3 separate regions of the Homo sapiens genome follow, and regions 1 and 2 are each linked to region 3. The links come from fine-mapping of genetic effects on gene expression. A gene starts in region 3. Each other region holds a variant in brackets. All regions are shown on one strand. Distances are between the middles of the regions. Region 1 overlaps LOC102723878 (a long non-coding RNA gene). Region 2 overlaps LOC124902686 (a long non-coding RNA gene). Region 3 holds the start of TRPT1 (tRNA phosphotransferase 1).

Region 1 (4,833 bases), 99 kb after region 3:
CTCTGGGTGCTGCCTGATGCCATTTAGTCTGGAAACCCCATGGCGGGAAGCTTGGCTCCCAGCATTCCTGCCGGGGCCCAGCCCCACCATCCTTTCAGACTTGACCCCCTCCTGGGCACACCCTCATCCCAGGAAGAGCTCAGGTCACTTTAGGACCATCTGATGGACAGGGAGAGGGGCTCTGGCACAGCACTTGCTCATTCCAGGAGGGCTCCCTGGGGGAAGAGTCTAGGTGAGCTGTGGAGGGGAGAAGATGCTGGTGAGGCCTGACCAGTGGTGGCTGGGTGTGAGGGGCCTCAAGTGGGGACACCAGCAGGGTGTGGGGATGGGGGCCATTGCCACGGCAGGCCCTGCTCCTGGGCCTCTGCCCCTTGGTGCAGGGAAGCCACGCCTGTGATGGTGAGGCCCCACTGCGTGGAGTCTAGGGGGCCTCTGTGCCCTGCGCGATGCTGCCTGCCTGCCCACCCCAGGTGTGGTAACAGCCCTCACAAGAATTGGTGAGGTGTGGACTGCTGCTGCCTCTCAGCCACCTACAGGGAGTCCGCATTCCATCACCGCGTGGAGCTGCCCTGCCATGAACCACATCAATACCTGGCTCCCAGGCACTTCCTGCGTAGTGGTCCCCAGGGGTCAGCCCCCACTGCTGACTCAGGCAGGCCACACTCTTGAGAGGTCAGGGAGAAGGTCAAAGCAGGGCCTCATAGAGCAAATGACCCTTGAGGCAGTGGGAGTGGCGCCTCAAGTGGGAGGCGGAGGGAGGCCCATAGCCCTAGGGGTGAGCCCCATAGCCCTAGGGGTGGAGGGTGGGACAATCCCATGCTGCCGCAGCAAGGTGGGTAGCAGGAGTAGGGGGGGAATGTTGGGGACAAGAGAGGATGCCTGGAGGTCAGTGGGCTCTCTGAAGCTGATGAGCAGCTTGCCTTCCACCCTACAGGCACCTTGGCCATGGGCTACCGTGTGCAGCCCCCAAGCTGGGAGGCTGGGAGAGGCACCAGATGGGCAGCAGGGAGCAGGACCCATGATGACAGCAATGCCCAGGAGGTGGAGGTGGAGATGTGTTGGGAGGGAGGGTGCATCCAGGGAGCTGCTTGCTGAAGGTGGAGGGGCTGGGTGCTTGTGGTCACGTCTGTGAGAACAGACACTCAGTAGGAGGGGAGCCAGCCTCCCTGCCCAGGGTTGCAGGTGCTCAGCCTACCCGAGTCGTGCTGCCCACCAACCTCTGTCACTGTGGTTCTCTCCCACAACCTGCCACCCCTTCAGGGGTCCCAGGTGGGGGCAGGGAAGGAGGCTGACTGCACCTCGAGCTGCCCTGGTAAACTGCCTGCCTCTCCTCTCCTGCCAAACTCGGGGGTACAGTGTTGTCCTCATGGACACGCATAACACAAAGCCCCTTTCTTTCCCGGATACCACCTCTTTATCCTCTCATCATACAAATGAGAAAACAGACGTGGAGCTTCCTACAGGGCACCTGTGAGCTAATGAGTGTCTCCATTAGTAAATAGGGGGTGGTGGTAGCAAATAGCCCACCCCACTGGCTGTGCACCCCACGCTACCCAGGCAGCTCCCTGCTATCGGGGAAGCCCAGCTCCGTCTCTGTCACTCTGCTGCCTGTTTCCTCTGCTCCTGGGCTATTATCTGGGCTGGCTGAGGCCAAGCAAGGCCTCTAGAGGAAGTGTCCCCTCCAAGGTCTGTTGCCACTGGCTGGGCCTCTAGGAAGGGTTGAGAGGGCTTCCAGGGCTGGGGTGGCCCTCTAGGACAGCCTGGTGTGGGTGGCGGTGGGGCTGTGGCCTCAGTGGCCCTGACTGCTGAGCATGTGGCTGAGCTTGCTGGAGTGAGGACGTCCTTGGGTGGGGGCACGGAGGACTGGCCCTGGAAGCTGCTCCAGGCCCTGGAGGGCCCAAGA[T/C]TAAACAGCACCTGGCAAGAGAACCTTGCATAGCTGTCTCCAGGTTGGACAGGTGGGGCTTCAGGCCTGGAGATAAGGGCAGACCAGGCCACGGTGTCCTGGACCAGAGAGCCCTGGACATCTGGGCTGCACCTGGCAGAGCTGTGCGTGTGGCCTTCCTGGGCTCTTGGTGGCCGAAAGACCAATGTTAAAAAACATAACAGGCCAGGCGGGGTGGCTTACACCTGTAATCCCAGCACCGTGGGAGGCCAAGGCGGGTGGATCATTTTAGGTCAGGAGTTTGAGACTAGCCTGGCCAACATGGAGAAATCCCATATCTACTAAAAATACAAAAATTACTTGGGCATGGTGGCGCATGTCTGTAATCCCGGCTACTGGGGAGGGAGGCTGAGGCAGGAGAATTGCTTGAACCTGGGAGGTGGAGGTTGCAGTGAGCCGAGATCGTGCCACTGCATGCCAGCCTGGGAGACAGAGCAGGAGTCTGTCTCAAAAAAAAAAAAAAAAAAAAAAAAAAGAAAAGAAGCTGAAACATCCACCCAACAACACATGCCCCAGTGAAACTCACTTGCCTGTCCTAGCATGCCCAAGGCCATAGCAACTGAGACCAGAAGGCCAAGGGTGTTACTCAGCATCAGTGGTTCTGGGCCTTCCTGGGTCTAGAGTCCCTTTGAAACGCAGCTGAACAGACCCCAACATGAGCCTGAAGAGTGTTGACCTAAAAGGAAGAAGCCTAGGCAAAATTAATATCAGCGGAGACTTTATTTGGGCCAAGCTTGAGGATTGCATCCCAGGAGCACAGATTCAAGTTGCCCTGAATATACACTCCGATTAGCAGAAGTTGAAATGGATTTTAAAAGGACAAGAGAGCTCCTGAGTTGTTTACTAAGAATTTACATTAAAATAACAAACTGGCTGGCTGCAGTGGCTCAGGCCTGTAATCCCGGTTCCTCTGGCAGCTGAGGTGGAAGCATTGATTCAGGCCAGTTTGAGACCAGCTTGGACAACATAGCAAGACACCGTCCCTACAAAATAAATAAATAAATAAATAAGTAAATATATAAATAAGTTGTCGTAGTGCATGCCTGTGGTCGTAGCTACTCAGGAGGCTGAGGCGGGAGGATCGCTTGACACCAGGAGTTGGTGACTAACTACAGTTAGTGAGCTATAATCGTGCCACTACCCTCCAGCCTGGGTGACAGAGCGAGACCTTGTCTCTAAAAAAATAAAAATAGGCCGGGTGTGGTGGCTCACACCTATAATCCCAGCACTTTGGGAGGCTGAGGTGGGCGGATCACCTGAGGTCGGGAGTTCGAGACCAGCCTAACCAACATGGAGAAACCCCGTCTCTACTAAAAATACAAAATTAGCCAGGTGTGGTGGCTCATGCCTGTAATCCCAGCTACTCGGGCGGCTGAGGCAGAAGAATCACTTGAACCTGGGAGGCGGAGGTTTTGGTGAGCCAAGATCTCACCACTGCACTCCAGCCTGGGCAACAAGAGCCAAACTCTGTCTCAAAAAAAAAAAAACCCAAAACAAAAACAACTAAATAAAAATAAATTAGTGACACCCCGTCTCTACCAAAAAAATAAAATAATTGGGTGGGTGTGGTAGCACGTGCCTATAGTTCGAGCTACTCCAGAGGCTGAGTTGGGAAAATCACTTGAGCCCAGGAGGCCAAGACTGCAGTGAGTTATGATTATGCCACTGCACTCCAGCCTGGGTAATAGAGCAAGACCCTGCCTCAAAAAAAAAAAAAAAAAAAAAAGGCTCAATAAAAGGTTATTTGAAAGATAAAAATCAGGCCAGGCATGGTGGCTCACGCCTGTAATCCTAGCACTTTGGGAGGCTGAGGTGGGCGGATCACCTGAGGTCAGGAGTTTGAGACCAGCCTGGCCAACATGGTGAAACCCCATCTCTACTAAAAATACAAAATTAGCCAGGCATGGTGGTGCCATGCCTGTAGTCCCAGCTACTTGGGAGGCTGAGACAGGAGAATTACTTGAACCTGGGAGGCAGAGGTTGCAGTGAGTCGAGATCACGCCATTGCACTCCAACCTGGGCAACAGAATGAGTCTCACCACAACCTCCGCTTCCCGGGTTCAAGCGATTCTTGTGCCTCAGCCTCCTGAGTAACTGGGACTACAGGCGCGTGCCACCATGCCCGGCTACTTTTTGTATTTTTTAGTAGAGATGGGGTTTCATTATGTTGGCCAGGCTGGTCTTGAACTCCTGGCCTCGTGATCTGCCCGCCTCAGCCTCACAAAGTGCTGGGATTATACGTGTGAGCCACCGCGCCTGGCCTATCGGGGGAGTTTTCAATAGGCCCTAAGGGAGTCAAGTCTGGGTTTCTGAGACAAAGAAAAGGTTGGAGGGGTCCTGGTGTTCCTGGCCTAGATCAGGCTTGGGCTGCAGCCATGAAGGTGCTGTGATCAGGGGCAGTGGAGGCTGCTGGCCCCAAAGGGACACACTCTACTGGGCGTGGTTGGGGTTTGGTGACACAGGCATTGAGAAGTGACAGCAGATAGTGCAAAGTGTGCATGGGTATAACTTCTGGAGAAGTTCAGGTAACATCTATGCGAAGGCACAGATTCTTGGTGTTAACGAGCATGCATATTGGCCTGCCATGTGATTATATTTGTATCATCAACTCGCACTCCTGGAGTTGGGAATCATGTCTTTTTACTTAACACAGGTAAGGAGCCCTGCTCAGGGTGGGAAACACAGATAATACTTAACACGTTTTGGGAAGGAGTAAAGAAGTGAAGGCCAGGCGTGGTAGCTCACGCCTGTAATCCCAGCACTTTGGGAGGCAGAGGTGAGCGGATCACCTGAGGTCCGGAGTTCGAGCCCAGCCTGACCAACATGGAGAAACCCCGTCTCTACTAAAAATACAAAATTAGCAGGGCGTGGTGGTGCATGCTTGTAATCCC
Region 2 (5,004 bases), 49 kb before region 3:
CTTTCTACTTTTTATAGCCTCATTTGGGTAGATAAGCGTCCGTCCCTCCAGCTCTCAGGTCCTCCTGTCGTCTTCTCTGATGACAATTTTGCATTCCACCCTCATCCAGGTTGTACTACTGTCTTCATATCTCACTTTATTACTTGCCTATGTTTCATTTTACTATCCGTTTCATTGGCCATATTGTACAGTCATTATGTTGAGAGGTATATAAGGGAAGGATGGATTACAAGGTATTAAATGTCCAGAGCTTGCAGCTATAAACCAGGAGCCTGGAAAACAGAGGATGCCCCTCCACCTGATTTTTTTTTTTTTTTTGAGATGGAGTCTTACTCTGTTGGCCAGGCTGGAGTGCAGTGGTACGATCCTGGTCCACTGCAACCTCCGCCTCCCAGGTTCAAGTGATTCTCCTGCCTCAGCCTCCCGAGTAGCTGGGACTACAGGCGCGTGCCACCACGCCCAGCTAACTTTTATATTTTTGTAGAGACGAGGTTTTGCAATGTCGGCCAGCCTGGTCTCGAACTCCTGACTTCAGGTGATCCACCCACGTTGCCCTCCCAAAGTGCTGGGATTACAGACGTGAGCCACCGTGCCCAGCCTCTATGTGACGTTTGGCAGACTGATCTGAAGACCATGTCGGCTGTCTGGGAAAGTCCTCAGTGATCTTGAGAGGGCCAGACAGATACTGAGTGTTCTTATCCCACGCCACCCTCCCCAGGGGAAGGGCCTTAGTGGGCCAGGGGGTTTCGTTCCTGGAGCCAGCAGAGGGAGGGCTTCAGCTGCCCCTACTCTGACTTCAGAGAAGGCCCAGGAGGGAGGTAGATGCTTCAGGGACATTTGGATTGAAGTGCACAAAATCCTTTAAAAGTAATGTTTATTGTAATAGATTTTAACAACATAGAAATAAAGTAAAAAGTGAAAGCCAGCAGGGTGCTGTGGCTCAGGCCTGGAATCACAGTACTTTAGGAGGCCAAGGCAGGAGGATCGCTTGAGCCTGGAAGTTCAAGACCAGCCTGGGAAACATAGTAGGACCCTGACTCCACAAAAAATATTGGCCGGGCGCGGTGGCTCACGCCTGTAATCCCAGCACCTTGGGAAGCTGAGGCGGGCAGACCATCTGAGGTCGGGAGTTCGAGAGCAGCCTGACCAACATGGAGAAACCCCGTCTCTACTAAAAATACAAAATTAGCCGGTCATGGTGGTGCATGCCTGTAATCCCAGCTACTTGGGAGGCTGAGGCAGGAGAATTCTTGAACCCGGAAGGCAGAGGTTGTGGTGAGCCAAGATCACGCTATTGCACTCTAGCCTGGGCAAAGATAGCTAAACTCCGTCTAAAAAAAATGAAAGTAAAAATATTAGCTGGGCGTGCTGGTGCACCTGTAGCCCCAGCTAATCTGGGGGCTGAGGCTGGAGAATCACTTGAACCCAGGAGTTCAAGAGTAGCCTGGGCAACATAGTGAGACCCTGTTTCTACAAAAAAAAAAAAAGTGAAAGCCCTTGTTATGGGCTGAATCATGTCTGCCTGAATTCCTATGTTGAAGCCCTAACCCCCAGTAGCTCAGAATGTGACTGTATTTGCATATAGGGCCTTTAAAGGGGTAATTAAGGCTGGGTGCAGTGGCTCACACCTATAATCCCATCACTTTGGGAGGCCGAGGCAGGTGTATCACCTGAGGTCAGGAGTTTGAGACCAGCCTGACCAACATGAAGAAACCCTGTCTCTACTAAAAAATACAAAAATTAGCTTGGTGTGGTGGTACACGCCTGTAATTCCAGCTACTTGGGAGGCTAAGGCTGGAGAATCACTTGAACCCGGGAGACAGAGGTTGCAGTGAGCTGAGATCGCGCCACTGCACTCAAGCCTGGGTGACAGAGCGAGACTCTGTCTCAAAAAAAGAAAGAAAAAAAAAGAGGTAATTAAGTTAAAATCAGGCCATTAGGGTGAGCCCTACTCCAGTCTGACTGGTGTCTTTTTTTTTTTTGAGATAGAGTCTTGCTCTGTTGCCCAGACTGGAGTGCAGTAGCATGATCTCAGCTGACTGCAACCTCTGCCTCCCAGGTTCAAGCAATTCTCCTGCCTCAGCCTCCCGAGTGGCTGGGACTACAGGCGCCTGCCACCACGCCCGGCTAATTTTTGTATTTTTAGTAGACACGGGATTTCACCATGTTGGCCAGGCTGGTCTCCAACTCCTGACCTCAAGTAATCCACCCGCCTCAACCTCCCAAAGTGCAGGGATTACAGGTATGAGCCACTGCGCCTGGCCTGACTGATATCCTTTTAAGAGGAAAGTTCGGGGCTGGGCGCAGTGGCTCACACCTGTAATCTCAACACTTTGGGAGGCCGAGATGGGTGGATCACTTGAGGTCAGGAGTTTGAGACCAGCCTGGCCAATATGGTGAAATCCCATCTCTATTAAAAATACAAAAATTAGCCAGGCATGGTGGCACATGCCTGTAATCCCAGCTACTCGGGAGGCTGAAGCGGGGGAATCACTTGAGCCCAGGAAGTGGAGGTTGCAGTGAGCTGAGATCACGCCACTGTACTCCAGTCTGGGTGGACTCCATCAGAAAAAAAAGGGG[TG/T]GGGGGGGGCGGAAAGTTGGACACACAAAGAGACATTAAGGATGCTGGAGTGCAGAGGAGGGACCACGTGAGGATGCAGGAAGAAGGCAGCCATCTGCAAGCCACGGGGAGAGGCCTCGGAGGAAACCACACCTGCTGATGCCTTGAACCTGGGCTTGCAGCCTCCAGAACTGTAAGAAAATACATTTCTGTTGTTTAAGCCACCCCATCTGTGGCATTCTGTTATGACAGCCCCAGCAAACTATCACAGCACACCGCCTCCCTGTTCCCAGTCCACAGAGGTAATTCCTGTAGCCACTGGCTGCGTATCGTAGATTTTTTCCCTGCATGTATAATCATATGTGAAGAGATACACACATAATTTTATTTTTACAAAAATAGGATTCAGCCATACACACTGTTCCACAACTACTATGCTTTTTTTTTTTTTTTTTTTTTTTAACTCACAACACTTCTGACACCAAATGTGTGGGTTTTTTTTTCCCACATCGACCAACTCTCCAACACCATCTGGGTGTCCTACAATTGAATCCATTCTGATACTATCAACCTGGAGTTGGCATCAGCTCCCACACGTTAAGGGCCCAGTCCCACAAGACTACCCCCACTTCAAACTCCAGGAGCAAGTCCTGGGTCCCCCATACTTCTGACATATGAATTGGGGGTTCCCATGACCCCCTCCTCAGGTTCAATAATTTGCTAGAACAGCTCACAGGAAAACAGTTTACTTTTTTTTTTTTTTTTTTTGAGACAGAGTGTCTCTGTCTGGAGTGCAGGAGTGCAGTGGTGCTCGCTGCAGCCTTGAACTCCTGGGCTCAAGCGATCCTCCAGCCTCAGCCTCCCAAGTAGCTGGGAGTACAGGCATGTGCCACTGCACCCAGCCTAACTTACTATTGCCGGTTTATCATAAAGGATAGAAGTTCAGGAACAGCCAGATGGAAGAGATGCATAGGACAAGGTGTGGAAGGCAGGATGCAGAGCCTCCAAGTGCTCTCTGATCACTCCACCCTCCCAGCACCTCCATGTGTTCTTCTCTGAACCCTGTCATTTAGTTGTTTTTTTTTTTTTTGAGATGGAGTTTTGCTCTGTCACCCAGGCTGGAGTGCAGTGGTGCAATCTTGGCTCACTGCAACCCCTGCCTCCCGCCCAGGTCAAGCGATTCTCCTGCCTCAGCCTCCTGAGCAGCTGGGGCTACAGGCGTGTGTCACCACATCCAGCTAATTTTTTGTATTTTTAGTAGAGACGGGGTTTCACCGTGTTAGCCAGGCTGGTCTTGAACTCCTGACCTCAGGTGATCCATCCGCCTCAGCCTCCTAAAGTGCTGGGATTACAGGCGTGAGCCACTATATCCGGCCTCATTTAGGAGTGTTAGGGCGGCTTCATTATACAGGTATAATTGATTAATTCTTGACCACTGGTAATTAACTCAATGTCCACCCCATCTCCCCTCCCCAGGGTTTGAACCCTCTAATCATTTACTGGGTTCCCCTTCTCCTGGCTACCACCCTCATGCGCCAAGAGTCACCTCATTAGCATAAATTTATGGTTGAAAGGGGCTCATTATGAGTAACAAAAGATGCTCCTCTCCCACCATCACTCAAGAAATTACAAGTGTTTCAGGAGCTCTGTGCCAGGAACTGGAAGTGAAACCCAAATATGCATACTTATATTCACAATATCACAACCACTAACTTTTTTCATTCTACCATATGTCCTTGCCATGTCAATATCTACCCAAATGTTGTTTCTTCACACTTGCCAATATCCCATCCTATGGAGGCAGCATCGTGTTTTCCAGTGTCCTCCATAGTTGGACTCAGGTGGTTTCCATCCCTTTTGCTGTCCCAGACAGTGCTGTGTGAGACGTCCTGTGCCACCAGGGTAGGGTCCCTGCGGGAGACATTCCTAAGAGCAGAATCACTTTTGTGTTTTCAATAGCTATTGCTAAGCGTACCTTCCTACGGGCGGTGTAGAAGAGGCACGTATCCCACCCACGTCCACACAGGCACACTCTCTACCACTTGGTATTTCTCAACAGAGGTGCTGGGAAGGAGACAGTGGGGTTGGGCCATTTGGATCTGAGGGGCTACAACAATTCGGCTCAGAAAAGAATAAGCAGAAAAGGGAGTGAGGAAGCCCAGAGGGAAGGTCCAAGGGACCTTCTGGGAAAGGCTGAGGGACCCCCAGGGCAGCGGAGGGTGACCAGTTCCATTGGCTCATTCAACAAACACTAAGCACTGACAATGCCCCGGGCTCTGCACTGGGGTCCAGCACATGGCAATGAAAGAAACGTCTTCCTCGTGGGAAGAAGTCGACACACAAAAGTCATTTCACAGAGTGCTTGGATCAGTGGGCTGGGGCGGCTGGAGAGGAGCAGATGCAACAAGCACTAGCATGACACTGGCTCATGAGAATTCCTGAGA
Region 3 (5,004 bases):
CTGCCAGCTGCCGAATTGTACACGAGTATATCGGGGGCTACATTTTCCTGTCGACGCGGGAGCGGGCCCGTGGGGAGGAGCTGGATGAAGACCTCTTCCTGCAGCTCACCGGGGGCCATGAGGCCTTCTGAGGGCTGTCTGATTGCCCCTGCCCTGCTCACCACCCTGTCACAGCCACTCCCAAGCCCACACCCACAGGGGCTCACTGCCCCACACCCGCTCCAGGCAGGCACCCAGCTGGGCATTTCACCTGCTGTCACTGACTTTGTGCAGGCCAAGGACCTGGCAGGGCCAGACGCTGTACCATCACCCAGGCCAGGGATGGGGGTGGGGGTCCCTGAGCTCATGTGGTGCCCCCTTTCCTTGTCTGAGTGGCTGAGGCTGATACCCCTGACCTATCTGCAGTCCCCCAGCACACAAGGAAGACCAGATGTAGCTACAGGATGATGAAACATGGTTTCAAACGAGTTCTTTCTTGTTACTTTTTAAAATTTCTTTTTTATAAATTAATATTTTATTGTTGGATCCTCCTCCTTTCTCTGGAGCTGTGCTTGGGGCTACTCTGACACTCTGTCTCTTCATCACCAGCCAAGGAAAGGGGCTTTCCTGATAAAGACAAGAGTTGGTTAGAGAAAGGGACACCTAAGTCAGTCTAGGGTTGGAAGCTAGGAGAGAGGTGAGGGCAGAAGGGCACAGCTTTCAGGAACAAGGAATAGGGGCTGGGGTGGTGGTTCTCACGGGTAGGGCGTAGCTGCAGGGCCTCCTTGAAGTACTTGGGAAGGAGGAAGCCATCAGTATTCCCTGGAGTCAGAATCACCCCATTGGCAGAGCGGAAGAAGGGTATTCCATCTGCTGACAGAGCCAGAGATGTGACTCATGCCCTCCCCGAAGGCAAGGGCAGCTCCTGCTTTGTCCAGACTCACCTGCCAGAGCCAGGGGTCCATCGATGAACACAGCTATTTCACAATGGGACCGCATGCCTGCAGAGACAGCTGGAGCTGAGGCCTGGGCACCTGGAGTGCAGTCAGCAACCTAGGCAGACTGGGGTCCTGGGCTGGGGGATGCAGGGGTGCTGCTCCATGCCGGACATGGGGTGGCCCCAGACAAGTGTTGTAACCTTTGAAGGGGACCTGGGAGGACAGAGTGGGTGGGAGTAGCTAGGTGGAGGGGAGGGCACTGACCACTGATGATACCGGGGTCTCCAGGCAGTCCTGGGGCCAGGTGAATGTGCGTCCTTCCCTGGCAGGACAGGCCTTTGAGTAGGATGGATGGCCAGTGCTTCCAGAATGTACCATGGACTAGCATCGGGGGCAGGGCCTGCGGTGTCTCCAGGGGCATCAGCTCCAACTTAGGTACCTGGTTGAACGGGTAGCAGTGAGACCCCCTTCGCAGGCAGGGGTCCCTCCCATCTCGTCTCGCACTTGTCCCCTCACCCCGACCTGCAGGGAATGGCCCTGGTTGGCCCGGATGAGAAGGCCAGTGCTGGGATCCCCCAGCTGCAGGGCGAACCGCTGCTTCCTATTGGTGTCCACCACGCGCTGCACATCTTCAGCAGAGAAGCCGCGGAACTGGGGCAACTGCAGGAGGGTGCCCAGGGGCACGAAGCCATCTGTGGGCAGGCAGGGTGCTCAGGAGCTAACCTTGCTCTGGACTGGGCCAGGGTTAACAGGGAGCCACAGGCAACCGAAACAAAGTCTGGGCTTGGAGATCGCTTGGGCATCCTCTGTGGGACCTTTAGAAAGTCTCCCCTTTCTGGGCCGCAGTTTTTTCAACTTACATAAAAAGAGGATCTGCCTCACGGAGGGGCAGGGAGGTGAGTGCCCAGCATAGCGCTGGCCCGGAGTGCACACTCACACCACCAGCTGCACCGTATCCTCCAGGGCTCGCCCTCGGGGTAAGTGCTGATCTGGCTGCTTGGCTGGAGGGGGCGGTCACCAGGCCTGGCCCAGACAAGAACTCTCCTCAGTCTGCTGTGGACATGACAGGGGCTCTAGGCCTTGCTCTCCTCTGTGCATGGGGAGGAAGTGCACTCTGTGCCTTCCTCAGGGAGCGGTGGAGGCAGCCATCAGGGAGGAGTCGCAGACAGGCTCACGTTTCTCTCTGGGCTCAAGCCCCAGCCTCCAAGGCCCCTACTTACCAGCTCCCATGGGAAGCCCCAGCTTCAAGGCCCCATGGCGCAGGGCATAGGACAGAGCCTTGGACAGCTGCACGTCTCGGTCCTGAAAGAACCCAGCGGTGGCCCCTAGTCTCCATGGTGACCCTGCCCTACTGCCCATCCTGAACCCTCAATGACCCACTGCAGAGAGAGCCCAGAGAGAAAGGAGTGCCAGTGGTCTCCAGGAATAGTAGGACCCTTCAGCTCCGCCCCCCAGCAACTCCCAGGGAGCCTGGACTGGTGGGAGGGGGTGGGGAGGAGGCGCGCACCTGTTCTCGGGGTCTGGGAGCCCTTCTACCCCTGGACCCTGCTGCTTCCTGCCTCCCTCCTCCAGAGAAGTTCATGGTTAAGACCTGTGGGGGGCAGTGACGAGGGGGGACTGCTTTAAGGCCCCTTCCACGTCCCCATCCCTCCCAGAAAGTCACAAAGCCTCAGGAAGTGAGCGCTGGGTGGGAGTATACGGCTCATTAAGTTCACCACCCCCAAGTCCCTGCTGCAGAGAGGGAAACTAAGGCCCAGCAGGCCAGACTTGCCCAAGGTCACACGGTCAGCCAGGAGCGCAGGGAGGCCGAGCCCCGCACCCCAGATCGCTGGTGCGCCCCGCAGGGTGGTCCGGGAGGCAGGGCCGACGTGCCGACGGACCGGGCGGAAGCGTCGGGGCGGCGGGGACAAACCTCCAGGATCCTCGACCGCGGCGGACCCGCCAATGAAAAGCCGCGTGGAAAGGGGGCGGGCACTTCCGCTTCGGGGAAGGGGCGGAGCCTGAGGGACCCGGCGGCTGGTGAGCGCCCGCTGGAGGCTGGAGCTTCCGGGCCCTGGAAAGGGGTCCCCGCGCGCCCCGGGTCGGAGGCAGACCCCTGGGTTTGGGGGACATGGGCATTTGGGGCGCCTGAACCCAAGACCTCTGGATGGTAGGGATGCCCGGGCGTCCTGGATACCCTGCGGGACTCGGGGCTCCTGCGGGGAAGATGGCACGTTTTACTGCCCAAGGAGTGGTCAGGGGGGTGGAGAAGCGCTGCGGATACCCTCAGGAGGTCTGCGACAGAGGGGGCTAGCTGCGCAGCCCAGGAGTGGTAGTGGCCCCCCTGGATGACAGGCCTGGCCGTATCCTCCCCCAGAGCTGCCCCGTTCAGACCATGGATCCTGAGGTGACCTTGCTGCTGCAGTGCCCTGGCGGGGGCCTGCCCCAGGAGCAGATACAGGCCGAGCTGAGCCCCGCCCATGACCGTCGCCCACTGCCAGGTGGGGACGAGGCCATCACTGCCATCTGGGAGACCCGGCTAAAGGCCCAACCCTGGCTCTTCGACGCCCCCAAGTTCCGCCTGCACTCAGCCACCCTGGCGCCTATTGGCTCTCGGGGGCCACAGCTGCTCCTGCGCCTGGGCCTTACTTCCTACCGAGACTTCCTGGGCACCAACTGGTCCAGCTCAGCTGCCTGGCTGCGACAGCAGGGTGCCACCGACTGGGGTGACACGCAGGCCTATCTGGCGGACCCACTGGGGGTGGGCGCTGCACTAGCCACAGCCGATGACTTCCTTGTCTTCCTGCGCCGCTCCCGGCAGGTGGCTGAGGCCCCTGGGCTGGTGGACGTACCTGGTGGGCACCCTGAGCCTCAGGTGAGATTCCAGGCTGGGCACAAAGACCCAGACAGCTCAAGGGAGCTGCAGCTCTCCACCCTCCCAATCCTCCCAGCTTTGGTTTCCTCATTCCTTAAAGGGAAAATTGGCCTGGTATTTCTCTGGAAGTTTGCTCAGGGCAGTCCACCTGCCTCCCCACTGACCCCTGCCCCAGTCCTGTGAGAAACTAGAAAACACGGGAGGAAAGATTGGGCACAGGAAGAAGATGCCCTACTCCACCCCTGCCCCCTGTGTATCTCCTTTGAAGCTGGACCTCTGGTTGTCTGTCAGGGAAAGGACACCAGACTCAGGATCACTAACTCTCTTACACTGTGCCACATCAGACCCTCAAGGCCAGCAGGTATAGGCTTGCTGGTCCTGAGATGGGGCAGGGGGAAGAGGTGGGGAGCAGGGGCTGAGCCTGACCTCTCACAGGCCCTGTGCCCTGGTGGCAGCCCCCAGCACCAGGACCTCGCTGGGCAGCTGGTGGTACATGAACTCTTTTCCAGTGTCCTTCAGGAGATCTGTGATGAGGTGAGTGAGGTTGACCTGGACAGGGTGGTAGACATGAAGGGAGGGGGTAGGACTTGCCAGAATTCTACAGGTCTGGGCTGGCAGGAGGCCTGCAGGCATCTGGCCAGCAATGAGGGAAGAAGTTGGCTTTGCAGCTATACATACTTGGAGTGGAATTCTAGCCCTCAGTACCCTCTGCCTTGGATTCTTCTTCTTTTCTTTTTTCTTTCTTTTTTTTTTTTTAGACAGAGTCTCGCTCTGTTGCCCAGGCTGGAATGCAGTGGCACGATCTCTGCTCACTGCAAGCTCCACCTCCCGGGTTCACGCCATTCTCCTACCTCAGCCTCCTGAGTAGCTGGGACTACAGGCATCCGCCACCATGCCTGGCTAATTTTTTTTGTATTTTTAGTAGAGATGGGGTTTCACCTTGTTAGCCAGGATGGTCTTGATCTCCTGACCTCGTGATCTGCCTGCCTCAGCCTCCAAAAGTGCTGGGATTACAGGTGTGAGCCACTGCACCAGGCCGGATTCTTCTTCTTTTTTTTTTTTTTCTTTTTGAGACAGAGTCTTGCTCTGTTGCCCAGGCTAGTGCAGTGGTGGCATATCGGCTCACTGCAACCTTCGCCTCCTGGGTTCAAGTGATTCTCATGCCTTGCCCCGCCAAGGATTCTTCTTTTCAATGGAAACAATGATAAATATCTTGCCTACTCCCCAAGTCTG

What was found. PIP is the estimated chance that this variant, and not a neighbour inherited with it, causes the effect. A credible set is the group of variants that fine-mapping cannot tell apart.
Region 1: its variant is the best candidate, but not a certain one, in a credible set for the expression of TRPT1 in lung (TOPMed, PIP 0.80).
Region 2: its variant is the best candidate, but not a certain one, in a credible set for the expression of TRPT1 in fibroblasts (GENCORD, PIP 0.65).

What each region holds. Positions count from the first base shown.
Region 1 is chr11:64,322,407-64,327,239 of GRCh38, forward strand. It overlaps LOC102723878 (a long non-coding RNA gene), which reads right to left. Exons shown (of 4, transcript NR_188518.1): 4 at 2,644-2,925. Among named protein-coding and RNA genes, the nearest start is that of PRDX5, 6.7 kb to the left of the region's middle. RefSeq lists a silencer at 2,934-3,086. The variant T/C (reference allele first, on the strand shown) is at 1,904.
Region 2 is chr11:64,174,245-64,179,248 of GRCh38, forward strand. It overlaps LOC124902686 (a long non-coding RNA gene), which reads right to left. Exons shown (of 2, transcript XR_007062712.1): 2 at 858-2,751. Among named protein-coding and RNA genes, the nearest start is that of STIP1, 9.4 kb to the right of the region's middle. The variant TG/T (reference allele first, on the strand shown) is at 2,581.
Region 3 is chr11:64,223,362-64,228,365 of GRCh38, forward strand. It overlaps TRPT1 (tRNA phosphotransferase 1), which reads right to left and starts at 2,825. Exons shown (of 8, transcript NM_001033678.4): 1 at 2,689-2,825; 2 at 2,425-2,508; 3 at 2,138-2,219; 4 at 1,440-1,609; 5 at 1,182-1,356; 6 at 924-980; 7 at 739-849; 8 at 455-606. The coding sequence starts at 2,499. The coding sequence ends at 515. NUDT22 (nudix hydrolase 22) reads left to right here and starts at 2,913. Exons shown (of 6, transcript NM_032344.4): 1 at 2,913-3,066; 2 at 3,274-3,771; 3 at 4,207-4,305. The coding sequence starts at 3,292. It overlaps FERMT3 (FERM domain containing kindlin 3), which reads left to right. Exons shown (of 15, transcript NM_031471.6): 15 at 1-530. The coding sequence ends at 131. RefSeq lists enhancers at 1,489-1,548, 1,731-2,453, 3,054-3,573, 3,574-4,091 and a silencer at 2,619-3,028.